Regions from separate parts of the Homo sapiens genome. Here all the other regions are reported to be linked to region 1. The links are microRNA targets in miRTarBase. Many come from high-throughput screens and were not tested one by one. Region 1 holds a microRNA gene; each other region holds the end of a gene's coding sequence.
What was found. Region 1 holds the annotated microRNA hsa-miR-4755-5p (UUUCCCUUCAGAGCCUGGCUUU, at 4,991-5,012, shown strand). A microRNA usually pairs through its seed, bases 2 to 8, with sites in the 3' UTR of a target mRNA and lowers its output. Matches are read on the target gene's strand: a 7mer-m8 pairs with bases 2 to 8, a 7mer-A1 pairs with bases 2 to 7 and ends in A, and an 8mer does both.

Region 1 (10,467 bases):
AGGAATAGGACTGTGGTTAGGGTTAAAGTTACCAAAGTAAGTTAGGGTCAAACTCTGAAGGACATAATATTGGAGGCTATTGTGTATGTACTGTGTTTTACACATAGCATGCAACAATAATTGATTAATTAGGTGATATATATTTGTCTATTTGTACGAGTATGTAGCTGTGTGTTGGTATGTGCGTTACTTTTTTTTTTTTTCCGAGATGGGGTTTTTCTCTTATTGCCCAGACCGGAATGGCAATGGCGTGATTTTGGCTCACTGCAACCTCCTAGGTTCAAGTGATTCTTCTGCCTCAGCCTCCCTAGTAGCTGGGATTACAGGCATGCACCACCACACCCGGCTAATTTCGTATTTTTGGTAGAGGCGGAGTTTCTCCATGTTGGTCAGGCTGGTCTTGAACTCCTCACTTTAGGTGATCGGCCGACCTCAGGTGATCCGCCTGCCTCGGCCTCCCGAAGCTGGGATTACAGGCGTGAGCCACCACACCTGACGTGTGTTAACATTTGAAGAACCATTGAGGCCAAGCAAATATCAAAAATTGAAGCCAGAAGGACAGATTGGACCTAAGCTTACCTAGGCTTGGAGCTCCTGAGATGTTCCCCAGTTCCACAAGCCCGTAAGTTAGTCACAGAAAGCCAGCATTGGAAGGGACCTTAGGGACAGTGTTTATACTTACATACATTCAGTTATCCATTCAACAGATGTCTGATACTGCCCATAGAACTGGGATACAGTAATGAACAAAACAAGGACTGCCTTCATGGAACTTGTTATTTATTTATTTATTGAGACAGGGTTTCACTCTGTCACCCAGGCTGGAGTGCAGTGGCATGATCGTGGCTCACTGCAGCCTTGACCTGAGCTTAAGCAATCCTCCCACCTCAGCCTCCTGAGTAGCTGGGACTACAGGCATGCACCACCACACCTAGCTAATTAAAAATTTTTTTTTGTAGAGCCAGGGTCTCCCTACGTTGCCTAGGATGGTCTCAACATCTTGGGCTTAAGCGATCCTCCTGCCTCGGAGGCCTCCCAAAATGTTGGGATTACAGGTATGAGCCACTGTGCCCAGCGTAGAACTTATTTTAATGGGGAAAACAATGAAAAAATTAGTAAATCAATTATGTAATTCTATATGCATTATGAAGAAAGATAAGCAGGAGTAAAATGTTAAAAAGTGGCCAGAGTAGACCTCTCTAAGGAGGAAGATCATTACCAGCTGAGAGAAGGGCAGGTGAAAAGGCCCTGATGCAAGAGCATGTTTGTAGAATAATTAGAAGGCAGCCAGTGTGGCTGGAGTAGCAGCAGTAAAGAGGAAAGAGGCAGGAGATAAGGTTGGAGAGTGGGCAGCTGAGGCCAGAACATAGGGCCCCGAGGTCCATTGGGCTGATGAGGAAATGAAGTTGGCATGTAGCCAGGATCACACAGCAAGTTATGAGCCAGGCCAGGATTGGGAACGTTCTGGTTCAGGCTCCCTTCCTTTGCTCTCTGCCATCTTCTGTCTTTTGGCCAATATTAACTTGAATCCCATTTAATACCTTCATTTTCTTCTCCCTCATGTAGCTCTCTCCCATTTCTCAGACCTACATTTGCTCACATGATTTGGTAATAGAGTGATTTCTGGAAGGTCATGGCTAGAGTGGTCCTTGGACATCTTTTAGTTAAATCCCTGGTATTAGAAATCCACAGAGGGAAATTGGCCTGCTCAAGGCTACTTACCTAGTTAGGAGTAAAACTTGATTTCTTTTCCCCAGTTCTCTTGCCGTCTGGTGTCTGGCTCTTCATTTTCTGTGTGCCGTTCCCCTTTTCTTACAGTTTCCAGCGGAAGGGAATCAAGTTGTGACCCATGTAATTGACACAAGCAGCTAGCAGCATTCCAGGACCCCATGCCACCTGCCCTCACTTTAGCTTTTTGTTTGGTCTTTGTCATGTGAATTTACTGTTTGATTCAGGCCGGTGTCTTTGAACTACTACCCTCTGCAAAGACATGTTGCTAACTCTGCATCCTTGCTCATGCTATTATTTCCACACCTGAACTGGCAGCCTGCTCTTAACCACAGGTCTGTATCCAGGAGGCTTGTCTTTGAAGCCCAGCCCCAGTCTTATCTCCAAAGAAGCAATGTGGAAAGAGGATAAAGTTTGGAGTTGGATATAGTTGGATTTGAATCCCAGCTTTGGCACATGCTGGGACCAAAGAAATCTTAGACAAGTAACTTGACTTCTGGGAGTGGTTTTCCTGTTTGTAAATGAGGCTATTAACACCTGCTTCATGGGGTCATTGGAAGGATTATTTAAGGTATTGTATGTGTACATACTTTAAGCATTGGGTAAAGAGAAACTCTTATTCACTCCTCCTCAAAGGTGCCTTCTGAATGCCCTTTGCCTTTTTCGTAATACTTAATAGGTAACATTTCTTGGGAGGGTTTCTGTGTGACCGGCACTTTGCTAAGTGTCCAGTGCTTTTAAAAGGACTTACCACTGCAAGTGATTCCATAGTTGTCTCCAAATAAAAAGTTAATTTTTAAAAAGCACTGATCTCATTTTTTATATATTTGTTATTCTTGTTGTGTGTAGATAGAGGCCAGGTTAGGATTCAGTATATACCTGTGTTCCAGTTGTTGCTCTGTGATTTTCTAGCTGTGTAAACTTGGACAAGTCACTGGACCTCCACTCTTTTTTTTTTTTTTTTTTTTTTTGAGATGGAGTTTCGCTCTTGTTGCCCAGGCTGGAGTGCAATGGTGTGACCTCGGCTCACTGCAGCCTCCACCTCTTGGGTTGAAGCAATTCTCCTGCCTCAGCCTCCTGAGTAGCTGGGATTATAGGCATGTGCCACCATGCCTGACTAATTTTGTATTTTTAGTAGAGATGGGGTTTCTCCATGTTGGTCAGGCTGGTTTCGAACTACTGACCTCAGGTGATCCTCCCACCTCGGCCTCCCAAAGTGGGGGGATTACAGGTGTGAGCCACCATGCCTGGCCTTGACCTCTATTCTTAATGTGTTTTTCACACTAGAGCCCTAAAATTCAACACTAGTTACATTTGGAAACCTGACTTGCTAATCTGCTGACCTTGGAAAATGTGTCTTTGTTGAATACAGAGCAGTAGTACCTGGGCTGGCCCTGTGTGACTTAGAGCGGACAGTATGGGAGGTGGAGAACTGGGTGCATGGGAGCCATTAGATCAAGAATTGGAAATTCCTCACAAATAAAAGGTTTCTGGGGTAGGAGCAGGGGGCAGTGTTGATGGTGACTCTGCTTGGATTATCTTCTAGGGATGGAGGATTGCCAGCTCCATTGAATGGAAGGACTGGTGATGCGCAGCCACTCTTGCATGTGCCCGGGCAAAAGACAGTGTGTTGGTGGCAAATGCCTAATGTGTCTATGGCTGACCATGGGCCATCTCTGCCATTCAAGACATCAGCTCCTGGCAGAGTTGTATTGGTTTGATAGAGCTTTAGTCTTCGGAGTCGCACAGACCTGAGTTCAAATCCTTCTCTGCCATTTACTGTAATAATTGTGTTCCTTAGGCTGATCCTTTAGCTCTCAGATCCTCTTTTTCCTTTTCTCTAAAATGATGTGGTTGATATCTGCTTTTGAGGTTGTGAGGATTTAAAATAACAGGTAAATAGGTGCCACACAGTACCAGATACTTAGTTGGGTGAGTAGCCTGGTGATCTGTGGCTGTTAGCTCTTTGAAGGCCAGTATCCCTAGGAGATAGCAGCAACGTCAGCACTGCTCTGATTCCCTGACCAACCCCCAACCCCACCTTTGCCCTCAGAAATACCCTGGACCCTTGTTTCCTTCCTCAAGTTCAGACCCCAGAAATGTTGGGCAAGAAGGAGCCTCCAGGCCAGGCTTTATTGTGCCAGATGTTATATCTGAGTAAGCAGGATTGTTACACAGCAGAGATACAGGAGCAGAGCAGGTAGCTCAGGCAGCTGCTGATGAACAAAAGGCTTCTTCTCTCTGTTCCCAATAAATTGGTCCTTGGGGATCCTAGCTTTGAAATTCTAATTGACACAGGAAGGAAAAGATTCATTAGGCTCTGGACTCGTTAAAATGCTCTGCTGCTCACCTACGATTTATTCTTGGCACTTCATCAAGAGGAATTAAGTAAACCAATGGGCTGGGAGGCTCCTGACAGCAGAGTCGTGTGTCTCTCGTGCTCCTGGGGGGATGAGAGTGTTGGGTCTCCTATGCTATGGAGCATATAGCTGGCTTTGGAATCTCCTCATCCCTAGGACTTCACATGAGTCTAAGTCTCATATGCTTTTAACAATGGAGGGACCTTCTGAGATCATACTGTGTAACTCATTTATAGATGGTCCAAAGAAGAACTGGGACTTGCTCAAGATCACGAAACGCATTAGTAGTGGAGTTAGAATTAGAATCAGTCAGGCTGCATGACTTCCAGGTCAAGAATATTTTCTCTGCGGCCGGGCGTGGTGGCTCACGCCTGTAATCCCAGCACTTTGGGAGGCTGAGGCAGGTGGATCACGAGGTCAGGAGATCAAGACCATCCTGGCTAACACGGTGAAACTCCATCTCCACTAAAAATACAAAAAATTAGCCGGGCGTGGTGGCGGGCGCCTGTAGTCCCAGCTACTCGGGAAGCTGAGGCAGGAGAATGGCGTGAACCCTGGAGGCAGAGCTTGCAGTGAGCCGAGATCGCACCACTGCACTCTAGCCTGGGAGACAGCGAGACTCCGTCTCAAAAAAAAAAAAAAAAAATTTTCTCTGCATCACCTTTGGATTTCTACACCCAGTGTTTCATTCATTCAGCCTTCAACAGATACTTTTAACACATTCTGTGTGCCAGGACTCTGTGATAAACAAAACAGCCATGGAGGAAAGTAAATACCTGACCCAGTATTAGGAGAGATTAGAAAGGCCTCCAAGTCTGAGAGATGGATAGGAATTAGCTCAGCAAGGAGAGATGAGGAAGGTTATGGCTGAGGAACTGGCATCTATGAAAGCCAGATTCAGCTTTCCCTTCAGAGCCTGGCTTTGGCATCTATGAAAGCCAGGCTCTGAAGGGAAAGTTGAATCTTGCTAGAGTGGAGAATTGAGGAAGAGATGAGATGTTAAGGCAAGCCGAGTCTATGAGGTTTGGGCCACTGTATGGTTGTAAAGAACCCTGGATCTGGGATTAGGAGTCCTGAGTTCTAGATATGTTTCTGCTACCAATATGTTAGTCATCATTCTAGTAACACTTCACATCTTTTAGGTGTGCCATGATGGGCACTGGGGTACAAAAATGTGTAAGATGTATGTAGTCCCCTCCCTCAGAGATCTGTCAGTTTAATGAGGCAAGCAGGCTAATTAAGAACCCCTGTAGTAAAGGAACAGTTACCTCTGCTGTAAGAAGTCAGAATTGAGCTGTGTGTTACTTTAAGCACTTTCTCTGGGCTTTGATGATCTCACCTGTCAAATGGTAAATAACCACTGTCCTATGTAGCTGGTAAACTGATGAGAAGACAGACAACTTTGTAATGATTGGCGTTTGTTTGGCATTTTGTGGATTTCAAAACACTTTTGACATCATTAATTCATTGAACCTTAACTGCAATCTTATGACTTAGGAAATTTCCCCACAATGTACAGATGAGGAAACTGAGAGAGGTTGAGGCTTGTTCATAGTTTCACAGCTTTTGATTAACAAAAGTTAGGATTATAAATCCAAATCCCGTGCTCTTATTTTGAAAAGTATAAAGATGGCAACCTTTCTTTCTATCCCCTACTTAGTGGCAAATTATCCCCTTCCCCTTTTCACAGTCACCAGAAATGCAGAGAATGTCTGCTGTGTTTGAAAAGCAGATCTAAGCTGACTGGGGAGAAAGAAAGGAGCTTATTTCAGGTCTTCTTCAGGCTGGACTCTAAACTTTTAAGATCATGTGCGCCCGTGCTCCCATCAGCTCCTGCTGTTCCATCTCATGCCATTTACAGAGTGCCATTTACTGAGCCACTACTTCATTGGCTACTCATAGCAACTTGTGGGGTAGACAAAGTGCACTTTACAGATGGGCAAACTGAGGTCCAGAGTCCCTGAATTGTACATGTCAGAACCAGGATTGAATCTAGAAGTCTTGGGCTCCTGACACCAAACAGGTGCTCTTAACTTGCAGAATGTAGGTTCCTTTGATTCAGTTCGGTTCAAACAATTCTTGAATATAACCCATGTGCCAGAGACTTTGCTATGCAAGAGAGCCTCTAGTTAGGCTCAAACCGTCTTGGTCTAGTGCCTTACTTAAGAACAGGGACTTGTATTATTTACTTCTCTGTCCCCAGGCAGGACCTTGATCCAAAAATGCTTTGCTGTTGTTTTTGGCCTTAATCTGCCAGAAACTAGAGGGAGCAGATGGCCACAGCAATGTGGGTTATGAGGATGTGATATCAGGCAGGGTTGAAGGATGAATTGAGAGCCCTGCACCCAACTACTTCTGTGTCTGTGCCTAGGCCCTTGTCAGGGTAGTCTCTATCTGAGAGTGTAGCTGGTCAGCCTGGTCCCATTTCTCATTTCCAGTCACCTCCCCCTCTTGCCATCCCATATAATGGGGTTAGTCTCCTGGACAGATCTCATACAGAGGCTGCTGGGATCTGCTGTCCAAATGACCCTTTGGACCTATTTCCCAGCCATGTTCCAAGATGATGGTGAGGAGTCTAGCCCCACAGCCAGTATGCTATCTCTATTCAGATAACTCCCAGCTCACAGGCCTCCCACCAGGCTCTCACCCACTCTGATGTTTTCACTCCTGACTCCTAAGAAGCAGATTGGCAATTTAGTGTGAGTCTGTCAGACAGCCTAGAGAGTAATCAATACTGAGAGAAATGGACATATTTCCTGTTTATTCAAAATCCTGATGAAAATTTTAAGGAGCACTATTTGGGAAGGGATGACTGGGAACCTTGCAAGAACAAACAGCTTAAAATTCATGAACAGAAATAGCAACGTTTATTCATGATGTTTCAAATGCCCCTAATATTCACATCTTTATATATTACAGACCCCTTTCATACGTGTTACTGCTTTTGAACCTTAGAGCAACTCTGTGAGGGAAGCAGTGTAAGGATTACTATTCCCACTTGACAGTTGAGGAAACTAAGGCCCAGGAAGCTTTAAAGAGAGTTAGGGACCATCTGATAGTCATGGTGGCAGAGCCCAAAACAGAACCAAGATTTGGAAAATGAGTACTCCTGGGTTTGAAATCTGGTGCTCGCCACTTTCTAGTTGTGTGACCTTTGGCAAGTTACTTGGCCTCTCTGAGCTCAGTTTCCTTCTCTGTAATACGAGGATAACAATGTCTACTCCTTATGGTTGTGTATGGATTTAATGATATAATTAATGGAAAATGCTAGCACAGTACAGAACATGTGTTAGGAGCTTAGTAACTGCAGGTATCCTATCTCATAGGATAGCGTTTTCAGTATATTGCACTCTGAGTCTTTGAAATTTGATACTTTTTTTTTGTTTTTGAGACAGAGTCTCGCTCTGTTGCCCAGGCTGGAGTGCAGTGGCGTGATCTCCGCTCACTGCAAGCTCCGCCCCCTGGGTTCATGCCATTCTCCTGCCTCAGCCTCCCCAGTAGCTGGGGCTACAGGCGCCTGCCACCACACCTGGCTAATTTTTTTTGTTGTTGTTGTTGTTTAGTAGAGACGGGTTTTCACCGTGTTTGCCAGGATGGTCTCCATCTCCTGACCTCGTGATCCAGGTGCCTTGGCCTCCCAAAGTGCTGGGATTACAGGCGTGAGCCACTGCGCCCAGCCTGATACTTTCACTACAGTAAAATGGACTACATATAATAAATTCTCATTAACCAGAGTATCATTTAAATGCCTCACTAGGTTAAGAGAACTGGATAAGAAGGGAAGCAGGGTGCTCCAGGCACTGGCTAAGTACTCCTGATGCAAATCACAGTAGGTTAGAGCTGACAGGGACCCTAGAGATCTGTCCCAGTGTGTCTTCCTCAAATTGTGTCTTCCTCAGAAGAGATGTTAATAATTTGGGAAACATCAGATTGAATAATGCTAATAAGTAAATTTCTTTACCGCTGCCTTTGCAGACCCTTATTGTGTGTGTCTCTTGGGAACGAGTTGAGAGTGCAATATGCCAAATTTCCTCTTCTTATTTAACCTTGGAGCCCCTTTTTTGAGGAACTCTCATTAACATCTTGAGGAACCCTGGTTTTCCGTGGAAGATTTCATGTAACTGACTCAGTCCAGTTCTTTAATTTTTAAGATGAGGGAAGCTTAAGGTCTCTAACCAAGGTCTACAGCCCATGGCAGAACCAAGTCTAAATCTCAGGGTGCCTAACTTTTTCCTAGGCCACACCATAATTTGTACTCCACTATTGTTCCTTTTCTAGCCAGCAAATCCTAAAATTACAGAGGATCCTGCAAACCACTAATCAGAGAGCATTGTTAGAGCATCAAGCTTTCTGTTTTGATGTGTTTATCCCAGTAGGCAGGAAAATGAGGAAACAACAGGCTTAATGGCCATCAGATGTTTCCAAACAGTTGAAGGACCAGGGGTCAAGTAATTATCTCAGTAACTGGAAAGGTGCCCTTACCGTGCAAAGTCGAACTCTGTTCTTCCTGCTGTAAGAAATTTGAGTTATATCTGGGGGACTCATCCAGTAGGCCCACAGTCCCCACAGTCCAGCTCCTACTAAGAACTAAGCTCTGACACCAGTAATATAAAAAAGATCCTGAGAGGGGTTTGAAGAGAATGTGTAAGTTTCTGCTCCTCTGTCACCGTCTCCATCACAAAATTGAGGGGGTAGGAATGTTCTGCTGGATTTCTATCCAGACAGTGGCAGAGGAAGTTGGCTTTGGCATTTAGTGGGGCTATCCTTGCATTTTACTAAGCCCTCTAGTTAAGATCAAATCAAGTTTAAAAAGAAACTTTTTTTTTTTTTCACTCTGTTGGCCAGGCTGATCTCGAACTCCTGACCTCAGGTGATCCGCCTGCCTCGGCCTCCCAAAGTGCTGGGATTACAGGTGTGAGCCACCACATCCAGCCCAAAAATATCACCTTTAAATTTGCAAGTTTATATGGTAGATTGTTCAAAGCACATCTGATCACAACACAATCCCGTGACATAGAGGTTCTTTTCCATGTATCATATGAGGACGTTAAGGTTCAGAAAAGAGATGGTGACTTGTCCAGGGTTTGACGGCAAATTAGTGATAGACCCTTTTCACAAGTGCCTAGTGCAAGGCCAACATTTAGTAGATGTTCAATAATTTTTTTTTTTTTTTTTTTTTTTTTTTTTTTTGAGACAAGGCCTCGCTGTGTCACCCAGGCTATAGTGCAATGGCACAGTCATGGCTCACTGCAGGTCCAACCTTCTGGGCTCAAGCAGTCCTCCCACCTCAGCCTCCCAAGTAACTGGGACTATAAACATGTACCACCATGCCCGGCTAATTTTTAATTGTTTTTAGAGACAGGCTCCCACTATATTGCCCAGACTGGTCTTGAACTCCTGAGCTCAAGCAGTCCTCCTGCTTTGGCCTCCCAAAGTATTAGGATTACAGGCGTGAGCCACCATGCCTAGCCAAGAAATATTTATTAATTGAAAATTTTAGTACATTCTCAGGGATTAACTTATGGTCTCCTAACTCTTTGCCCAGTATTCTTTCCATTAAGATAGCTTGGTGGGGCCAGTGGTTGGGCTTCATCTCAGGGTGACCAGATAATAAAGAGAGGGAGGGCTGAATCTCTGTCACTATTGATATTGCTGACAAGGATGGCATTTTCTGGCCTTTGCTGCTGTCCTTATACATACTACCCACTACAGAAAGCCCAGATTCAGTAGTCTCTGGGCTGCAGACTCAAGCTTTTGTTGCCTTTGCTCCCTGTAGTATACTGAACAATGATGCCAGTGACCCCCAGCTTCTCACTCTGCCTTCTCCTTTATTTTCTTTCTCATCAGTGTCTTACATCTCCTTCTATTCTGCTGATGGATGAGGAATTTGAGCTCATCTCACAAACATCAGCTACACGGTTCACTGTTAAGGAGTTGTTGTATCATGTACCTTGGGAAACCATTTACTGAAAAACGCCCACCTAGGATTCTTTCACCTGTTCACTAGCAGAAATTTCACTGGTTGCTAGTATAGTGCTGGAGGCTGGGATTGCAAAGATTAATAAAATAGTCTCTGCCTTCAAGGAGTTCAGAATTTAATGGAGGGAGACAGATGTGTAAATACAAAAGTGCAGCAGATGTTGCAGTAGAGGTCAGCAGAGAGTATCTGGGTCCAGAGGAGTGAGTGGCTGGATCTGCCTACGGGGTGGGATACAAAAGCTTTCCCGAAGAGTTTTCTACAGGGACGTCACATCAGTGGGTTTGTACTCAGAAAACTCCTGGCCCCAGCCACCACTGCCAGATCAGAAATTGGTTGCAGGCTGGGCATGGTGGCTCAAGCCTGTAATCCCAGCACTTCGGGAGGCTGAGGCAGGTGGAT
Region 2 (10,467 bases), not on the chromosome of region 1:
CTAATTTTAGAGATGAAGAAATTAAAGCTCAGGGAAGTAACATGCCCAGGCTAGTGAGTAGCAGGATGGAGACTTGAACTCAAGCCTGTCTGGCTGTAGAGCAGATGGAAGGCCCTGCTACTCTGCCAGTGGCCTCATTTGCTATCAGAACAGACAAGCCACAGAAAACAGAAGGGTGTGGAATGTTCTGGGAATGGCAAGTATGGCTGGTTGGAGAGGACCGAACCATCTGTGAGAGGGAACCCTGTCCTATAAGAGCTACAGCCCCAGCTGGGGTCAGCAGGTGAGCATGGACACCTCTGCAGCCCAACGTGATATTTTTCCAGGACTTGGTACCGACATGAGCATCTTCCAAGGCCACTTTGGCTTGTCACTCTGGATAAGTCAGACCCTGTCTTACCCTTCCTTAATGTCCAGAAAACTCTCCCATCCCATCTCTATTTGGTCCCTGGAAACAGCAATCCAGAAAGCTGTTTCCACTTGTTTGTTTGCTCTCTGGGACTGCATCTGCATCATTTGTTCTTTTGGTGAATTGTCTATGGGGTTCTATGAGTCATACTGTGATTTTAAATTATTAATGTCCGTCTACTCCCTGGTCTTTCCCTGGTGCCTGTTTGCAATATTGAAATGATTGTTGTTTTGCACTTTCTTTGCCACAGTAAAATAAAGCAAGCTGATGAATGCAAGAGAAGGGGGCAATCAATACAGACAGCATAGGACAATTTTATAGATCATCAGCACAAATGTGGCATTTTTTGTGTTTTGTAGATAATGAAACTCCCAGAAAAATTACAGGCAGAAGTCACAGAAAATGGAGAAAACTTCTCAGTAGGGGAACGTCAGCTGCTTTGTGTGGCCCGAGCTCTTCTCCGTAATTCAAAGGTAAGAAAACACGGAAAATGGATTGGTCAAATTTTGGATATTTCCCGCAGCGCCACTCAATCCAGGAGGCAGAGCCACGTGTATGTCTTTCAGCAAAGAGACAGCAATTGAGCCATTTAAAAACCGATCACTTTTTCTTAAGACAAAGTTGTGAGGGATAAAAATTGAAAAGTAACAGCCATTTACAGCAAGAGCACCTTCCCCTCCCAGGCTTCCCCTGGGGAGGTCTCGCTTAGATTTTCACTCTGCTTGCCTAAGTGGTTTGAGTTTGAAAAATCTGTCTCCCAACTTTCTCCCATTGTCTCTGAACAATTCTGAATCTGGATACACTGTCCCCAGGATGCTCAAGAGGGCCATCAGAATGCTAGGATATGGGAATTGTAGAATTTATACTTATTTTTCTTTGTAACTTAGCCACCCTTACTTACTGATTTCCAGGAAGGGATTGCTGTTGCTTTAGTAATGCCAGTCTCTGAAGCCTCATCAAAGATGTGACCCATTGTGTGTATTCTCTAGATGTGCTAATGTCAGGGGAGAGGGGCCGGCGTGGATCTGATGCCTGCCGTGGCACTGCATGCTGCTAAGTGGTTTAAGTGTAGTCTCCATATCCAGCTCATCAATAAGGCATAGCCCCCTTTCACCTACGAGGGAACAGAGCCTCGGGGAAGTTAAGTAACTTGGCCAGTCAAGCAGAGTCAGGGGTTAAGTTCAAGTGCTCTGATTTGCTAAATCAAATCCGTCCTGTGATCAGCGGAATAATACCCCCACCTCCCCAAAGATGTTAATGTCCTGATTTTTGGAACCTGCGAACATGTTCCTCCGAGACTTTTAATATATTAACTTACCTGGCAAAAGGGACTCTGCAGTTGCGATTAAGGATCTTGAGATGGGGAGATGATCCTAGATCTGGGTGTGCTGAGCATATTCATATGGGGCTTTCCAAGGAGGAGGCAGAAGAGTCAAAGAGAGAAGGAGCTGTGATGCCAGGAGGGGCTGTGGGCCAAGGAATGCAAGTGGCCCAGAAACTGGAGAGGGCAAGGAAACAGAAAGAATGCAGCCCTGACAATACCTTGATTTTAGGATTTCTGACTTCTGGAACTAGAAGATAATTTACACTGAGTCTCTAAGTTTGTGATTGTTTGGTATGGCAGCAATATAGGGAATGAATGTAGGAGCTGCTGTGCTTCATGCCGACTCAGTTTAGCACAGTAGATAAAGCCTGTGCAGCCTGTCTCCCTATGAGTTTGTAGGGTTAGAATAAACCACTTAAAAAGAGGAATAAAGGATATACAACCTTGTCCCTCTAGCAAGTTCCTTTGGAAAGATGGAGGTGATGTGATGTGACTTTTATTTCACTCTTGTTCTTCTCATTTTCTTTTTTGAGATGGATGTTTAGCTAATTACTTTTCATCTTGTGGTCTTATTTTTCTTCTTCTTCTTTTTTTTAAAGTAAATAGAGCCGAGGCTGTAAATTCCCCTCTCAGTGCGCCTTTGGCTTATAATGTTTCCTCCTCCACAGATCATTCTCCTTGATGAAGCCACCGCCTCTATGGACTCCAAGACTGACACCCTGGTTCAGAACACCATCAAAGATGCCTTCAAGGGCTGCACTGTGCTGACCATCGCCCACCGCCTCAACACAGTTCTCAACTGCGATCACGTCCTGGTTATGGAAAATGGGAAGGTATAGGAAGCTCTTTTGGCTTCACCTCCCCAGAAAGTCCAGTGGTTTGAGCTTTACAGTGGGTAGATATTTTCCGATGATTTCAGTTCTTCTTCTCTGACTTTCAGGTGATTGAGTTTGACAAGCCTGAAGTCCTTGCAGAGAAGCCAGATTCTGCATTTGCGATGTTACTAGCAGCAGAAGTCAGATTGTAGAGGTCCTGGCGGCTGATTCTAGAGGAGGAAGAGGCTCTGTGAGATGAATAGGAGGAGTCTTCAGGAGGAGGGGCTGTCCTCTCCGCAGGCAGCCCTGGTCTTCAGCCCCTCCCATCCACGGAGTGAGCTGGGGCTGAAGTTGTCCCCACTGCCATACTCAGTCCATGTCACCCCACTTGGTGGGCTTGGGGTTGGTTCTGGGTGGTGAACCGGGGCAGACCCAGCTAATGGATTAAAAAACTGCCCTTCACCTCCCAAATCCCCAAGGGTTCCTCATGTGTTTTCACCAAAACCACCCCAGTGCCTGAGATTGAAAATATTGTAACTTTCAGTTAGAAATCAGCCACAATAAACAACATGGGAAAATGCCTTAGGATGGAGTTTGCAAGGTTTCCTTGCCCATTATCAGAAGGAAAAAGAGCAGAATTTTCTTCTCGTTTAACCCCACTCACTTCCATCTTGACTGGGTGACAAGTGGTAATGACACAGATTTGTAGCGTGAAAGACTGAATACAGTGTTTGGCCAAAAATTTTTTTAAAAATCATATTATATGTTTCAATTGATCTGTTAGAATAACCAAGAAAACAAAATGCTGGAGTTTCTCTATAAATGACACTTTTATATCTTCTTTATTCGTCGTTAAAACGCGGTAGGAAATTACCCTGAAATGTCGCCTTGCAATTATTTCACTGAAGATATTCCAATTTCCATACTATTTCCTCCAATAGACCCTTGTTGCCTTCTCCCTTCACTCAGTAATGAACCTTCACAGTCGCTTACCAAACAAAAAGCTTTCTCTCCAACCTGGAGGCTGGTTCTGATGGAAGCAGTAAAGATGTATTCCCAGCAGCCCCAGGAGTGAGCGCTGCTAACTCATGGTGACATTTGGGAAAAAAATATTTATAGAAAATCCAGCAAGCTCTTGTGTAGTAGCCGCCAAGGGGCACGCTGGGAGTTCTGGCTGTTTTTCATTCATCAGGAATGAAGGCCCCATGAGGTTCCCTGGGCCTGCTTTCCAGGCCCCAGGCTGAGCTCTAAATGTAGCTCAGGGCAGTGTGGTCAGCAAAGCTTCCAGACCACAACCCCCCACCCCACTTCCCTTGTAAGTGTTGGTCACGTACTTGCTTCCCCAGACGTGGAGGAAGGAGTGCCTGGCACCTGGAAGCACTCGGGAAACACTTGTGGCAGCCATGAATGACAGCATCTAATGAACTCGCTGAAACACAGCTGTGGAGCCTGGCGGACACCCCTCCCAGGTGTGTGTGCATGTTAAGAGCTTAATCTGGATTTCTGGCCAAAAAGCCAACAGCCAGCAATTCAAGGGCTGGGCATGTGAGGTTAACCTCCAACCGATTATTCTCCAGCCCTCCTCCGGCCAGGCCTGGGCAGGGGTCTACCCAACCAGCGGGGAGGTGAGCACACCTGGCCTTAGGTAGAGCTTATAACCTGGCAACTGCATGAAAGCCCTGGCCCAGCAGCTTGGCAGCAATGGATCCTGCCCTCAGCAGAGGGTGCACTAAGACATGTGGCTGAGAAGGACGTGAGCCAGGGGGTTCCTTCTGTGGGCAGCTCCAGGCCAAGTGTGGATCTCTCTGTGAAGGGACACAGTGTATCTTTGCCTGATCTGAGCTTTCCCCCATGGTGCATGACCCTGACTGAAGGTCATTAAACCCACATCCACAGCGTTCTGAGCAGCTGCTCCCAGCTGAGTGTGGGCATCACCTTTATGGACATAAGATAACTTCCCCAATATGACAAGCAGACTGGGCAGTCTGTGCTGGCCATGGGAATCCATGACAGTTGTGCAATGTCAGGGAGGGATGCTTTACTTTCTACCAACTGGACACCAGCCAGATAATCAGTCTGTGATTTCAAGAGGTGGTGTTTTCATGAGGACAGAGGATAGACTACAATGATCCCTGCTGCTCCTTCAGATGCATTGAGAGATGAATCACCTCCTATGACTCCTTTTCTGCCCACACTCGCTTTGGTTTACTCTGGCAGAAGAAGAACACCGACATTGATCCTGATGTCTACTGAGACCTTGCAGTGTGCCAGGACTGTGACAAGCATTTTTTCCATGAATTATTTCACTGAATCCTCATCTCACCCCATGAGATGGGATTTGAGGCTCACTGAGGTTAGTAACTTATCTACAGATGCCCAGGAAGGAAGGGACAGAGATAGGGCTTGAACCCTAACCAGTCTGGCTCCACAGGCCCTGCTCCCAACCCCTTCACAACAAAGCCCCTCCAGTCCTTTCCCCTTGGCCTGTTGCAAGGACAGTGATGGTCATCAGTATCATCCCTGGGGGAGAGTGACTTCTGAGGGTTTGGCTGTTTGCATGTATAAGACACGAAACCATCTTAGCAAACCCCTCTCCCACCCCAACCCCTTGCTATCACTGCCATGTCAGCCAAGGGGAGACTATGTAGAATAATAGTAGCCATTTAGCCAAATTCCTCAAAGCACAGGCTTAGGTTATTAAATCCTGAACATATCCCTGTGGGGTAGGTGTCTGCTATGATCTGAACATTGTGTTCCCCCAAAATCCTCCTGTTGAAACATAATCCTCAGTGTGACAGTATAGAGGTAGGGCCTTTAGGAGGTGATTAATTAGGTCATGAGGGTGGAGACCTCATGAATAGGATTGGCTCTCTTATAAAAGAGACTTGGGGAAGCTTGTTCACCCCTTCCTCCATGTGAGGACACATAGAAGGCATCATCTGTGAGGAATGGGCCCTCACTCAACACCAAATCTGTTGGCACCTCGACCATGGATTTCCCAGCGTCCAGAACTGTGAGCAATAAATTTCTGTTGTTTATAAATTACTCAGTCTAAGATATTTTATTATATCAGCCTGAATAGACTAACACAGTACAAGTGTTATCCTTATATTACTGATGAGGAAACTGAGGCATCAAGAAAGTAACTTGACCAAGGTTAGCCACTGGTGAGATTTGAATCCAGGCAGGTTGACTCTAAAAAGTGTGCTCCTCCAGGAGTATGAGACCAGCCTGGGCAACAAAGTGAGACCTCGTCACTACAGAAATACATACAATAAAAATAAAACATGTGCTGTTAAATTCCATGCAACACTGCTAGAAATGCAATCCTCCTGGTGAGAAAGAGCAGTGCCTGTGTTGTAAAGCCTGAGTACTGGTCTGGGTAGACTCAGTTATGCTGCAGTAACAAAAGACCCCAGACCACACTGGCTTATTTCTTGCTTATGTGACACATCCATCACAGGTGAGCTGTGACTGTGCTTATCCTCTTCACTCTGTGACCCAGCGGAGCAGAGCAGTCTCTGCCAGGAACATCATGTTTTGTGGTAGAGGGCAGGCAGACATGGCAATCGGAAGTGATACATGCTACTTTCATCCACATTTCATGGGCAAAACAAATTGCCTGGCTGCTCCTGAGTTCAACAGTGTGGGTAGTGGTGGTGGTATATACCCTACTCCACAGGGAGGGCCACCATAAGGCACAAGGACCAAGCTTATTCCAGCAGGAGTTGTATAAGCTTCCTCTTTGGAGGGGCAGCAAATATTTTGAACAATACAACAACCTACTATAGCCTGGGTTGGGATCTTCATTCTGCCACTGAGTGGCTGTGTGATATGGGGAAAGTAGCTTGCCTTCTCTGAACCTCCATTCCATCTGTAAAATTTGGACAAAGTGCTAAGGTCTTTTTCATTCTTGACTTTCAATATAGGAGAAACAAAAAAGGAGATATGAAAACAGTTTCTATTGGAATTTGGGCATTCAGAGGGGATTAGAATGCCCTATAAATGTAATTAAATGTTTTTGTTGTTGTTGTTGCTGTTGTTTTGAGATGTCACCCAGGCTGGAATGCAATGGCGCAATCTCGGCTCACTGCAACCTCCACCTCCCAGGTTCAAGAGATTCTCCTGCCTCAGCCTCCTGAGTAGCTGGAATTACAGGTGTGCACCACCATGCCTGGCTAATTTTTGTATTTTTAGTGGAGACGGGGTTTTACCATGTTGGCCATGCTGGTCTTGAACTCTTGACCTCAAGTGATCCGCCCACCTCGGCCTCCCAAAGTGCTGGGATTACAGGCGTGAGCCACTGCGCCTGGCCTTGAAATTTTTATTCTCATTTATTTCAGTGCCCCAGCTTTGCTGTGCTCTGATATCATCTGCCTTTTGGGTGATCATATGCTCAATGTTATGAATTAGGACCTTTTGAATAGTAGATGCCAACAGAGAATGGAATAAGCCACTTACAAGCATGTGGTTATAAATTGGTAACAAATTGCCTGTGACTTGTTTCATCAACACTTGTATCCTGGAGCTAATTTTGAGGCTACCTGGTCTAGAAAAAGTGTGGACAAATTAGCCCATAGGCCAAATCCAGCCAGCCCACCTGTTTTTATAAATAAAATTTCATCAGAATGCAACCATGCTCATTTGTTAATTCATTACCTATGACAGCTTTCACATTCCAACAGCAGAGTGGAGTGATTGTGACCAAATGTATATCCTCAAAGCCCAAAATATTTACTATCTTGTTCCTTTACAGAGAAAGGTTGCTGTCTTCCGATTTGGGGCATTGGCGTGGGATATGATTCATATGAGGGGGAAGTCTGTTGGTTGTCGGGATGGGGTCTGGAAGGCATACCCTCCCGTTGCCTGGTCTATCTGGGGAGTCAGCAGCCTCGTGTGAGCATGAAGGAAGCAAGACAGAAGGACAGAGCACAGGGACTTGCTTACTGCACGGAGCTGCTGATATACCAACCCTGAAGTCACCCTACCTCTTGTCTTTTTTTTTTTTTTAATTGTAGATTCAGGGGGTATGCATGCAGTTTTGTTACATGGGTATATTGTGTGATGCTGAGATTTGCGCTCCTGGTGTGCCCATTACCCAAGTAGTGAAAACATACCCAATAGTCAGTTTTTCAATCCTTGTTCCCTCCCCACGTTTGGAGTCGCCAGTGTCTGTTGTTCCCATCTTTATGTCCATGTGCACCCAATGTTTAGCTCCCACTTACAAGAACATGTGATACTTGGTTTTGTTTCTGCGTTAATTCACTTAGAATGATGGCCTACAGCTGCATCCATGTTGCTGTAAAGGACATGATCTTATTCTTTTGTATAGCTCCTTCTTCTTGTCCTGTTATAGAGGATACATTTTCCTTGTTGTTTAATCCAACTCTAGTTGGTCTTGCTGTTACTTGCAGCCCAAAGTGTTGTAAACAACACAGAAGAGTCATATTCTCCTCTTGCCTGGGAAGATGCTGATCCTCACCTGAGGAAGAAAGAATCCCAGTCCCCGCACTGCGAGTTACACCGTCTCCCTCCCACTCAGATGTGGCCCAAGTGAGCCAGTTCACATTGAAGCAGGGAGGAGTTTCCGATTCTCATCTGTCCCCCAAGCTTCACGCAAATTATAAATATTCCCCTTGCCTTCCCTCCCTACTGCTTAAGATCAGAAAGACCCAGAGAGAACTCACAGATTTTATTCTTGCTGTTCAAGTGAACAGATCTGAAATTGGCCCAGAATTGTTGGTAAAATATGAAATGTTCTTTGCTAAGAGCTGGAATCACTTTGGCCAGTACAGCATGATTCAAAATGAATTGGAAAAGGCAGGAGTTCAGTTTTGGGTCAGATGGACGATCAAAGAAATCACTTTTCTTTTGGCCCTGTGTAGAAGGTCACTTCTGGGTAAGGCCAAATCAAGCATTAACGTCTTCAAATAAATGTCAATTTCCATGGAGAAGCCCTGCCTAACTTCATGATGTGCACGTTCCTGGCTTCAGCTGAGAGCTTTCCCTCTGCCGAGACCAGCATTCAAGGACCAGACCAAGTCAGTTTCTATTGTTTTAGCACAAACCTGCCTCCTTCACCTGGCAAGAGCCACACTCAAAGAAGCCTCAGCGTGGTTTGTGGCAATTGTTCTGCATTGCTCTAAATAATTTTTTTTATTATGGTAAAATGGAAATAACAAAACATTTACCATTTTAACAATTTTAAGTGTATATTTCAGTGGCATTAAGTACATTCACATTGCTGAGCAGCCATCACCATCATCCGTCTCCAGATATTTTTCATTTTTCCAAACTGAAACTCTGTGCCCACTAAACTCCCCATTCCCCTGTCCCCGTAAAACCCTGCAACCACTATTCTACTTTCTGTCTGCATGAGGTGCCTTATATAATGGAATCATATAGTATTTGTCCTTTTGTGTCTGGCTTATTTCAGTTAAGGTTCATCCATGTTGCAGCGTGTATCAGAATTTAATTCCTTTTTAAGGCCATCCTAATAAGTGTGAAGTGGTATCTCATTGTGGTTTTGATTTGCATTTCCCTAATGAGTTGTGTTGTGCATCTTTTCATGTGCTTATTGGCTTTGCATTTTTTAGAAAGAGAAATTGTGGTAGCCCATCTTGCAAGGTTCCTTTTTTAACATAGCTTTTTTTTTTTTTAAATGGAGTCTTGCTCTGTCACCCAGGCTGGAGTGCAGTGGCACAATATGGACTCACTGCCACCTCTGCCTCCCAGGTTCAAGCTATTCTCCTGCCTCAGCCTCCCAAGTAGCTGGGATTACAGGTGCTCACCACCACACCCAGCCAATTTTTGTATTTTTAGTAGAGACAGTTTCACCACGTTGGCCAGGCTGGTCTTGAACTCCTGACCTCAAGTGATCTGTCCTGATCAGCCTCCCAAAGTGCTGGGATTACAGGCTTGAGCCACTGCACCTGGCCAATACAGCATTCTCAAATGAATATTCTCACTATGTCAATGTGTACAGGAGCTCAGAGACTATAATTATTAGCTATGGGCTAAGAACCTGGCATACATCACATCATTAAGGCTTTAAAACAGCTCATGAGGTAGGAATGACTTTTCTTGTTTGCTCAGAGAGATTGTGTATTTTCCCAAGGTTACCCAGATGGCAGGGAGAGGAAACTGGACTTTTATCCCAGAGCTGGCTTTCCCAGTCCAATCTCTTCACTTCACACATTAGGAAAAGAAGGCCCAGAAGATCTAAAACTGGTCCAAGTTCATTCAAAGAGTGGTAGGGGGGAGGATTGGGCTCCTGAATTCCAGCTTAGTGCTATGTCCATGCAGCCACATTGCATCAGACTGTTCTCCAGAGGGAAGTAAAAATATAGCTCTTTTCCTCCGGGCAGCTCATCATGTTATTGCGGAAATGACTTAAAAGTACCAAAGTACACACAATAAAATACCAGTGGATGAAGTGTGATGTTATGTGGTGAGCTCATTCATTCATTCTTTCATTTATTTGTTCACTCATTCAGTATTTCACCTGATTTTTCACTCTTTTGATCCTTTCTTCTATTGAAAGGATGGAAGAAGTGAAAACAATTCTGGACATGACCAACAGTCCTTGTAGGGCAAGTATGAGCCATGAAGGTGATGAGGCTGGGGAAGGTGTTGTTTCTGGTTGAGGAAAGCATTCAAACAAAGATCTGGGAGTGAGGGCGAGCCTGGCTGGGGAGACAGCCAGCCACTGCCTAACTAGGGCTGAGGACTGCTTGGAAAATTTTCAGTACTTCACAGTCTGCATCTTCAAATGGTTGGTGAACACCAAAGGCTTGGATACAACTAGTGAAGGGAGAACAGTTTGTCATAGAAACAATTAGGGCAGGTGCTGGGGAAAAGTCCATTAGTAATAAAGGGAGTTTGGCCAAGGAAAAGTGGGGCCACAGACAATCCCCCTG
Region 3 (10,467 bases), not on the chromosome of region 1:
GCAGTTACTGAAAATGGCACTATATCACATACAGTACGGATACATATTGTTTTGTATTTCAACAATAATATGCTATATATAACAGTCTATGCCAGATAATAATGTAAAATACTTATTATTAATATGGGGTTTTATCCAAAACATTTATTTTTATTTTTAAAACATTTATTTAGAGATGGGGTCTTGCTCTGTTGCCCAGGCTGGAGTGCAGTGGCACGATCATAGCTGACTGCAACCTCAAACTCCTATCCTCAAGTGATTCTTCTGCCTCAGCCTCCCAAGTAGCTGAGATTACAGGTGTGAGCCACCACACTTAGCACCTGTCCAAAAAGTTTGAAAGATATTGCTCTTATTACAGTATTTGTTTTCTTCATACCACCACCATAAAATACCAAACTGCTTCAGAAATTACCACCATTTTATTTTTATTTATTTTGAGACAGGATATTGCTCTGTCACCCAGGTTGAAGTGCAGTGGGGCACAATCATGGCTCACTGCAGCCTCAAACTCCTGGGCTCAAACAATCCTCCTATCTCAGCCTCCGAAGTAGCTGGAACTACAAATGCACGCCACCATGCATAGCTCATTTATTTTTTGTAGAGATGGGGTCTTGTTACGTTGCCCAGGCTGGTCTCGAACTCCTGGGCTCAAGCAATCCTCCCACCTCAGCCTCCCAAAGTGCTGGGATAACAGCCGTGAGCCACCACATCCAGCCACCGTTTTAAATTCCTATTTATTGATGTTTAATGTCTGTCTTTTACCCAAACTACAACAGAAACTCTTTGAAGACAACTTGTCTGTTTCAAAACTGTGGTCTTATAAGCCTCAAACCCTGTCCAACATGTGGACACTCAGATGTTGTGAAGCAATTGACATAGAAACAAATGCAGGAACATCCTGTCCAGAGAGATTATCTGTTGATGTGGAACTTGAGTAGTGAAGGAGGAGGCAAAACATGATAGTCACACTACAGAGGCAGGACTTAATGCTTCCTAACAGAGCATGCAGCCGCACAATGCATACCTTGCTAAACAAGCAGGTGGCAGGGAGCGTGGCTGCACTGAGGGGAAGCCCCTCATGGACTGGGGTGCTGGCTGGCATGCCCTGGCTTTTGCTGCACTCTCCAGCTCTGCCCCAGGAACCTGAAGGCAGCTGCTGCAATCCCAGGCATCACATGCAGGCTGCAAACTCATTTTATTATTTTATCTTTGAGACAAGAGTCTCACTCTGTCGCCCAGGCTGGAGTACAGTGGCACGATCTCAGCTCACTGCAACCTCTGCCTCTGGGGTTCAAGCAATTCTCCTGTCTCAGCTTCCCGAGTAGCTGGGATCACAGGCACGTGCCACCATGCCCAGTTAATTTTTGTATTTTTAATAGAGATGGGGGGTTTCAACCATGTTGGCCAGGCTGGTCTCAAACTCCAGACCTCAAGTGATCCACCCACCTTGGCCTCCCAAAGTGCTGGGATTACAGCAGACTGCAAATTCAGATGCCCCGTCCCTGTGTTTAAGAGTAAGAAAAACCTTGTAGATCTCTAGCAGTCTTCCTCTCTTCCCTCACTGGGTGGAAATGCTCATTATTAAACCAGCCACAGCCATGCTGGAGGCACCCTGGTTGCCTTAGACACATCAGTACTCCCCTGATGATGGGGGAACGCTGGCTCCTCTTTAGATGCTCCTGCTCTTGGGATCCCGTGAGCACAACCCCCACCCCCACCCCCACTGTTCACAGACACAGGGGCTCTTAGGGAGCACAGGAGAAAACACACTCAAGCAGGGAAATACTGTTCTTTAATGGACACCCTTCTAACGTGATAGATTATTCTGCCCCAAAGAACAAATTAAAAGATATTCAACTTGCTGCCTGTGTCCAGGAAGAGAGCAGGGAGGGTGCTGGGCACAGACCCAGCCTAGCCCTCAGCATCACACAACAGGGCCACCATAGGATGAGAAACCATTCTATTAGTAATAAACAGACCTCTTCAAGAAATAGTGTTTTTGGTGGTTCATACATTTTAAAACACTTAACAAGAGAATAAGCATACAAATTTCTAATACTGTCCAGGTACAACACTGTTACACACAAAATCTAACAAGTGTGAACTTAATTTTCAGCTTCTATTTGAAATCAGATGAAATAGCTTTTGATACATTAACCACCAGGGGAAATTTTGAGGGAAGGAGTGCTTAATTCCATATGTCTTGGACTTGGATTTCTTCAGCTGAGTCCACAAACCCTCTTTATGCAAGGTTGTGTGTTCTGTAGCTGTGTGCATTTCTTAAAAACCAGAGTCTCCAGGGGCCGACCTGGGAGCCTAAGAAGTGAAGCCTGCTGGTGCAGAGGGGCCAGCAAGCCCTACCTGCTCGGCACACCTGCCTGCATGTGCAGTGGAACTGAGCGAGTGGAGCAGAGTGTGAGCACTCACAATGCTCACCAAACCTGGGACGTGGCAGGCAGTTTCCCAAGGACTAGGAAAGACATTCACAGTGGCACAACTGTTTAGCTACCTCATTATGACCCACCTGTGTGTCCACACAGGTCAGGGCTACCCTTCAGTTTACCTGAGAAGCCTAGACCTCAGGACCGCCATCTCCTATGCTACCATGCCCAGCCTGACCTGGCTGCTCACAAGTACCTGCCATAATGCTTGGCCTCCTGGAAGCTCTAAAGCGGTGCAATTGTCCTGCAGAACATCGCAGTGTCAGGGTATCCTGCATGCAGGTGAGGGGTGGGCAAGTAGGGCTAGCAATGTCCTGCTCCATGTTCCTGTGAGCAAGAGCTCACAGGGACCCACCAGACTGTGTAGGCTGGTCACAGTCCCCAGGGCTGTGCAACAGCAACTTGAAACAGACTGAGGAAGCTGCACAGGCCAATGGCAGGGATGCTTGTCACTCGTCCTTCTCCTGTGGCAGAGGGAGATGCCAGTCTGGAGGGGGGCTCTGCCTCGGGGCCCACACCAGGATGTGCTTCCGTGCAGCCCGGACTCGTGCCCGCTCGCTCTCACAGAGGGATTGCTGTGCAAATGAGACTCTAGTCACTCCCCAGGCTCTGAGCACCCTCAAGACCCCTGTACCTCCCCCCTCTCATCACCCTCTGAAACACAGATGGACAGGCAGGGCCTATGGTACACACCACTCTGCAGCACAGCTGCTTCCACCTACTATACCTTGGCGATTCTTCCATATTAGCGCACAGAGATGGAGATCATTTTTTTTCTCACAAGCTACTGTGAAAAACTACTGAATAGGTCATAATAATTTGAGGAATTTTTAAATATCTTCTCCTGGACCTCAGGGCTCAATGGCTCTGGTTGACCTCGTGAGTCTGGGGCATATTCACCTGCTGAGAGTGAGCCTGGGGGTGCTGGGTGGAGAGGAGAGAAGAGTCTGAGAGAGCAGCTGTGGGGAGCTGCAGGGAGGAGTGTGTTAGGGAGAAGGGAGGAAGACGGGGAAGAAATACATGTCCTGGGTATCCTGGAAGGGTGGGAAGAGTCCAGAGGACAGACCACCCGCCTGAGTGGTGCCACAAGTGCCACTTAACCCATCAGCTTCTCTTGGCTACTGTCTCCCAATACAGACACAAGTCAGTGTATCACAACATGGGTGACCTTTGCTGTCAGCCCTTGGTAGGTATCAGGTGCTATGTGAGCCTCTTTACACAGATAACTTAATCTGTCTACATGTCTGTCTTTGTTCAAGCTCTATTGCCTCAAATAAAATATTTTGATCGTGTTTAAAAAGCTATCAGAAATGTAGTACAGAATATTAAAGATTCCCAAATGTCCATTCCCAATGCGGCAGTTAACAGCTTCCCTGATATCTTTTTTTGGTCCACATTTTAGAGCTAACATGTTTCCCTAAAGATAGGATAATCTTTTGCTGGCTAGTCTACTTCCTGCTTTCTTTTCACTAAACAATACACTGTAGGCACTTTTCCATACCCAGGGAGATGACCGACCATTCTTTTCAAAGGCTATCTGGTATTTCACTTTGTGGAAAAAGCTATTTGGTCAAATGTCTATTAGTGAAATTTAGGTTGTTTTCAGCTTTTGCAGTATCAAAAACATAATTAGCATTCTAACTTTTAACTGTACACTGTTATCCAATTACTTCCCTGGGATAAAGTTCCAGAAGTAAAACTTAAGGTCAAAAGGTATGTATCTGACATTTACATAATCAGAACACCTGACACCCCCACCAACACTGCACAACTACCCAGAATTCTTCAAACCTCTATCAACACCACTTTCTGCTGTTACTGTCATTTAGACTTATATACCTGACACCTGGCCATTTGATTTTTTCTTTTTTTTTCTTGAGAGGGAGTCTTACTCTGTTGCCCAGGCTGGAGTGCAGTGACACGATCTCGGCTCATTGCAACCTCCGCCTCCCAGGTTCAAACAATTCTCCTATCTCAGCCTCCCGAGTAGCTGAGATTACAGGTGTTTGCCACCATGCGTGGCTAATTTTCGTATTTTTAGTAGAGATGGGGTTTCGCCATGTTGCCAGGCTGGTCTCAAACTCCTGACCTCAGGTGATCTGCCCACCTCGGCCTCCCAAAGTGCTAGGATTACAGGCATGAGCCACCATGCCCAGGCTTTTCTCCTTTTTTATTATTTTTATAAAGATGGAGTCTCACCATGTTGCCCATGGCTGGTCTCAAGCTCCTGGGCTCAAGCGATCCCCTTGCCTCGGCCTCCCAAAGTGCCGAGATTACAGGTGCCCACCACCATGCCCAGCTGGCTTTCTTTTTTAATGAATTGCTTCTTTGTGTCCTTTGGCCATTTTTCCATTCTGAAATAATCCCTATATTTCTTATTGATATATATATAACAGCTCTTTATACACACACACGCACATATATATACATTAAAGTTATCAATCTCTTGCTATATAAGCTGTCAGCTTTCTTACTTTTTTTGACTTTCACATATTATGGAATAGTCATCATTTTCTTTTATACAGCAGTCTGGTTTCCACATCAGTTCATCTCTTTCAGATCACTGTATACACTTAATAATGTTGAAGTGTTGATCAGTCCCATTGATTCTCATTCCTTGGCACTCCCCATGAGCCTCGCACCTTTCGGCTGGCTTCTCTCCATCTCCTCTCCCACAAGGGGTCCACCGTAGCACTGTATTCTACACTACAGTGTGGGTGCCAGGAGGGCAGAGACTCTTCTTATCACTCGTGCATCCCCAAGAGCACCCAATGTGGTACATATTTGCTGGACGAAAAAACAACTAGAACCACCTCCTTACCGGTCTCTCTGCTCCTGTAATATATTCTCTACACCCTAGCAAACAGATTGAACTTCTTTTACCCTCTCTCTTTTTTTTCCCCCCTGAGACAGGTCTCCCTCTGTTATCCAGGCTGGTGTGCAGTGGTGTGACCATAGCTCACTGCAGCTTTGAACTCCTGGGCTTAGGCGATCCTCCCGCCTCACCCTCCCAAGTAGCTGGGACCACAGGTGCACGCCACCACACTTTGCTAACAGACTGATCTTTTAAAGATATAAATCGAATTATGCCTCCCAGCACACTTTAGACTAAACTCTAAACTCCGTATCAAAAGGCCCGCCAGGTCCCTGGTATACCGCTCTCCAACCATCCACCTACCCTCTGCTTCAGGAACCCAGGCCTTATCTGTTTCTCAGCGGTGTCTACCGGGGCTGGATGAAGGCTGGCTCCTGGTCACTCAGGACTCAGCAACATCACCTCCTGCGTAGGCCAGCTGATGACCCTAACACCGGACGGCTGCCCTCTTCCCTCTCTAAACCACTCTACACCCCCTCCTCGCTGGTCTCCTCCTTTGTCTTTCACGCCCTCTGAAAGTCCTGTTGATATGCTAATTTACACAATCTCTCAAAAGAAAGGAAGCGTGAGGAGGATAGGGACCCCGTCAGTCCCCGGCTAGGTCGCGGGGCATGGGGCGTGGAGGGGTGGGGAAAGCTGGGCCCCGCAAGGCGCTCCGAAGCGCCGCCCCGCTCCCTCCCGGCGCACCTGGGCCTCGGCGTTCCGGCGCTCCTCCCAGTCGCGGCAGCTGGCCAGGTCGCGCTGCCACTGTTCGCAGGCCGGCCGCTCGCCGTGGACGTAGTAGTGGTGTAGGAAGTGCCTGGCGCTGCGGCAGAGCTTCCACTCGGCGCGGTAGGCCTCGCAGGGGCGCGGCGGCTGCGGCGAGAGGCGGCGCCTGAGCGGGGCCCGGCGGCCGCGCCCTACGCCCCGAGCCAGTCCCGTTCCCTCCCTCCGGAAGACCCCGGTGGTTCCCGGCTCCGACCCAGCACACTCACCTGCCAGCCGCTGCCGTCCGCCATGTCTGGGCGACCGGCGCGCCAAGCCCGCCCCTCAGTCCGCCAGCCAATGAAAAATGAAGAAAACGGCACCTCGTGATCGACTGACAGAAGAACTAATGAGCACCGACACATTCAATCACGTCTTCGCCCCCTTCTTCGAGAAGCGCCGACAAACAGGACGAGCAACCAATAGCAACCGAGGGCGGCTGCGGCGCGCGCGGAGGGCCGGGGTCGCAGGGTAAATCCGGGGCGAGACCTGGCGCGAAGCCTACGCGACCACCGCGACGACAGCGCCATTCACCCCGGGCCAGGCGGGCATCCTGGGCCGCGCAGCTACCTTACGTCAGCCGCCTCTCAAATCACACGGCTCTGGCCAGTTCTTTTCAGCAGCTTTATGAGATTTTCTCAAATCTCAACAATCCGGTATATTTTCAAAAGTACATACTGAGCATCAAGGTGGTGCAGCGAACCTCCCAGATCTGCAGCTCCAGCAGTCTTGCTTGAGCGTCCACTCAGGATGGAGGTGAACTCGCAAAGTAACTGAGATTGGTTGGGCATGACATATGGTGGATCTAGGGTTGAATGACCTCCCCAGGGAACGCAGGCTTGAAGTGGAGGCTGAGAATGCAATCCGAGTACAGCCATAGGCCGGTCAAAGGTATGGAGGCGGTGTGTAGCAGGGGTGAGCGGGGTAGGAGTGGCTTGGATGTCTGTAGTTCTATTCTAAGGGTGCGGGAGACATGTAACATTTACCTTATTCATTTTTCGAGACAGGGTCTTGCTGTGTCACCCAGGCTTAGTGCAGTGGCGTGGCGTGTTCATGGCTTACTGCAACCTCAAACTCCTGGACTCCGAACAGCTGGGACCAAAAGCATGCACAGCCTCACCAGGCTAATTTTTAATTTTTTTTTTTTTTTTTTGTAAAGATGGGGTCTTGCTAAGTTACCCAGGCTAGTTTGGCCTCAAGCGACCCTCTCACTTTGGCCTCCCAAAGTGCTAGGATTATAGGCGGAGCGCCAGTGCCTGGCTGGGACGTTTATAAAAAGGAGCAATGCACAAGAGGCAACAAAGGCAAGTAAAGAGGAGGCTGGTGGGCTTGCAGAAACGCCCTGCAGTACCTATGCTGCGGTTCTCCCACTTCACTGATAACAAATCCTCAGTATCCACTGATACAAATCCTGGGACTGCTGGGCCAGTCCCAGGAATGACACTGGGACAGACTCCCTGGAGGTGGATCAGAAAGCTGCAGTTTTACCAGGGGTCCTGCTGTTGAGGCAGCCGGCTCAAGGACCAAGCCCAAATAAGACACTGAGAGGAAGGCTGCAGGCCAGGGTGCAGGAGTAATGACCAGGATCAGTGCTCCAACTGGCCCCACTGTGTCATTAAAAGGCTCTGCAATGGAATCCATCCTGGTCCAGGCAGGGGAGTGTGCCTCCAGCAAAGGACCAGGCGTTTCACTGCATACACAGCAGGTGTTGCTTAGTGAAGACAAAAACCCAGAGCCAGAGGTACTGTAACATTCTTCATTATGCATAAAGTGACAGTCTGTTAGCTGATGTGATCCTGCAAATGAAGGCTGTCTACCCACCAAGGGTTTCTCCCTCTGCTAGTAAAACTGAGACTTTGTCAGTGGAGGCTCAGGTAAGTCCCCACAGTGCTCATGCCTTCCAAAACCACGCCCATTTCCAGTGATGATGGTTTGTGCCACAGGCCAAGTACTGAACATCATGACACTCATAGACACTCTTCACTGAAGACGTGGATAGACCCTGGGGCCACCATTCTCTCCTCTCTGGAGTGTTGGAGGGGCCCTGACCAGGGCAGGACCCCCATGTCTGGAAGCAGGGTTAGCCCTGGCTCATGGGGGACCCTGCTGGGCTTAGCCATTGCCACCTAGGGATCAGGCAGCCTTGTTTCTTCCTACTTTCTCCAGGAGAAGCCCCAGAGGGACACTTTTCTAATGGTGAGATGGAACACGGAGCACCTGCCAACAGGCCTTCAGTTATGGTCAGAGGCCCAACCACCAGTCTGTGTTAGTACCTAATCAAACATTTAGATTTAGGCTTTAGTTATTGCCTGTTTTTACTTGAAATTCTTGGCTTAGAATTATTCCCAATGGGGCCAGGCACAGTGGCTCATGGGAACAAATTTAAAATAATCAGATTAGCATGTCAAAAGATCTCACGTTATAGAAAGTGAAGATCTAAGACCAAATAAATACTGATAAAAAATACAGGCCAGCAGAAGCTTGGATGATTTAATAAATTAAAATTGGGAGTTGGGGAGTAGGGAAGAAGGAGAGGAACATCTCTTTAGCATTTGTTCATTCTAACATTCACATGTTTGCTTCTCCATGGAGTTGTTTCACTATGAACAGGTTCACTAAGGAGCCAGTTATGTCCATATGAAATGAGAATAAAAGTGCAAACTCATTCAGATCAGGTTCTTCTGAGTGGTGTTTTTGAAAAAAATATGTAAAATAAAAATAGAAACATTCTTTGTCAAATACTTAAATTGCAGCCACAGTAGTGGGACAGCCACTACTTATAGAACACATGTCTATTTAAAGCCTTTTTTTAGGCCAAAGACTGACACCTATGCAATTGATGTAGGAAAAGAAAGGATAAATGAAGAAAAAGAAAGAACACTTCATGTTAGACAATTTAGTCACCTTCATAGGTTTTGACAGAATTAGGGATGCAGAATTGCTCCTGCTGAGGCAGTGGGAGCTCCCCTCAAGCTGAAAGCGTGAAGAGGTGAGGAGGCAGCTATCTACAGGCCCTCAGGGACAGCTCTTTGTCTTTCCCCAAATCAAGCATACAACTACAAAGTCCTGCTGCTCCACTTCCAAGTCAAACTTAATAATTCTTAGGTAACTCTAAATAAATCTTAAGTAACAGAGTATTCTCTGATGAGGCTCGTCCCTGTCAGTGCCAGTAACTAAAAGCCAAGATGTTGCAAATGATTCTTTTATTATTTTCCAATCAGCCAACAGTCCTCACTTAGGGCTTTCTTCCCTTTTTACGCAATGACTGTCCTTCTCCAGAGAAAGCGACGAATCTGCCTCCAGCTTCATCCTAGGTTTGAAGAGAAGATACTATTTTCAGAAACTCCCTGGAGGTTTACAATAAATGCCTTACTCTATGGACTCACGTACCATCCACATTACTCATAAGAAATATCTCAGGCTGGACACGATAGCTGACACCTGTAATCCCAGCACTTTAGGAGGCCTAGGTGGGAGGATCACTTGAGCCCAGGAGTTCAAGACCAGCCTGGGCAACATAGTGAGATCCCATCTCTACCAAAAATAGCTCAGTGTGGTATGTGCCTATGATCCCAGCTACTTGGGAGGCTGAGACGGGAGGATGGTTTGAGCCAGGGCCATAGTGAGCTATGATTGTGCCACTGCTCCAGCCTGGATGGCAGAGCAACAGAGCAAGACCCTGCCTCAAAAAAAAAAAAAAAAAAAAAAGTCTGTAAGTTCATCACCCAAAAACATTTCAGGTCACTTTTCTGTACATGCTTAAAGAATTGTTTTCCCACTTAATTCTGAAATCTCATGCCAATAAACTTCCTGTCTAGTATACTCCCAAGGCTACAGAACTGAATTCTGTAAAAAAGAATTCCATGATGTAGGAGGGCCAGTTTTCTACCAGTGGACATTGTTGTGGTAAGCAGCTTAATGTATTTGCACACAACTCTGATTTTTTTTAGAGCTCAAATTCCTGGGTCAAAGTGTGTACACACTTTTAATGCTTTTAACATATAGAGACCAACCAGCCCTCAGAAACATTCCACTAAGCTATCCTTCCATCAGCAGAAAGAGGGATTGTTTTTTCCCAAACCTTTGAAAACTGCACATATTTTTTTTCACATGCTTTTATTGCTAGTCAGTCTGAGGCATTATCTCAACTTTTCCCTAGGAAGAAGAGGATTCTGGAATGTTCAACACACATCCCTGCACCTGGCTCCCCACTAACTGTAGCATGTTATACCTGCAATAGAGCACTGTTTAGTATTTATGTGGTCACATTCATGTAAATTTGAGTCACAGCTGCATTTAGTCTTCCTTTGCCGCACAGCCTTCCATTCATCCTGGTGTCAATAGCTGTGTTTGGCTTCTTCCTCTATTCAATCACAGCCTGCATTGCATGGAGTTCATCTGTTTTGA

Region 2: miRTarBase lists ABCC12 as a target of hsa-miR-4755-5p. The part of its 3' UTR that is shown has no 7-base or 8-base seed match.
Region 3: the mRNA of UFD1 is a reported target of hsa-miR-4755-5p. The part of its 3' UTR that is shown has no 7-base or 8-base seed match.

Annotation. Positions count from the first base shown.
Region 1 is chr20:34,044,138-34,054,604 of GRCh38, forward strand. MIR4755 (microRNA 4755) reads left to right here and starts at 4,982; the gene lies at 4,982-5,053. All of the region lies in intron 2 of RALY (RALY heterogeneous nuclear ribonucleoprotein), which reads left to right. RefSeq lists an enhancer at 1,673-2,481.
Region 2 is chr16:48,076,008-48,086,474 of GRCh38, reverse strand. It overlaps ABCC12 (ATP binding cassette subfamily C member 12), which reads left to right. Exons shown (of 31, transcript NM_001393797.1): 29 at 769-882; 30 at 2,402-2,566; 31 at 2,674-5,593. The coding sequence ends at 2,760. Among named protein-coding and RNA genes, the nearest start is that of ABCC12, 75 kb to the left of the region's middle.
Region 3 is chr22:19,441,375-19,451,841 of GRCh38, forward strand. UFD1 (ubiquitin recognition factor in ER associated degradation 1) reads right to left here. Exons shown (of 12, transcript NM_005659.7): 12 at 8,537-9,370. The coding sequence ends at 9,296. It overlaps C22orf39 (chromosome 22 open reading frame 39), which reads right to left and starts at 6,337. Exons shown (of 3, transcript NM_173793.5): 1 at 6,291-6,337; 2 at 6,004-6,171; 3 at 1-3,016. The coding sequence starts at 6,314. The coding sequence ends at 2,891. It overlaps UFD1-AS1 (UFD1 antisense RNA 1), which reads left to right and starts at 6,060. Exons shown (of 2, transcript NR_186687.1): 1 at 6,060-6,951; 2 at 10,220-10,314. RefSeq lists an enhancer at 5,533-6,435 and a silencer at 5,883-6,282.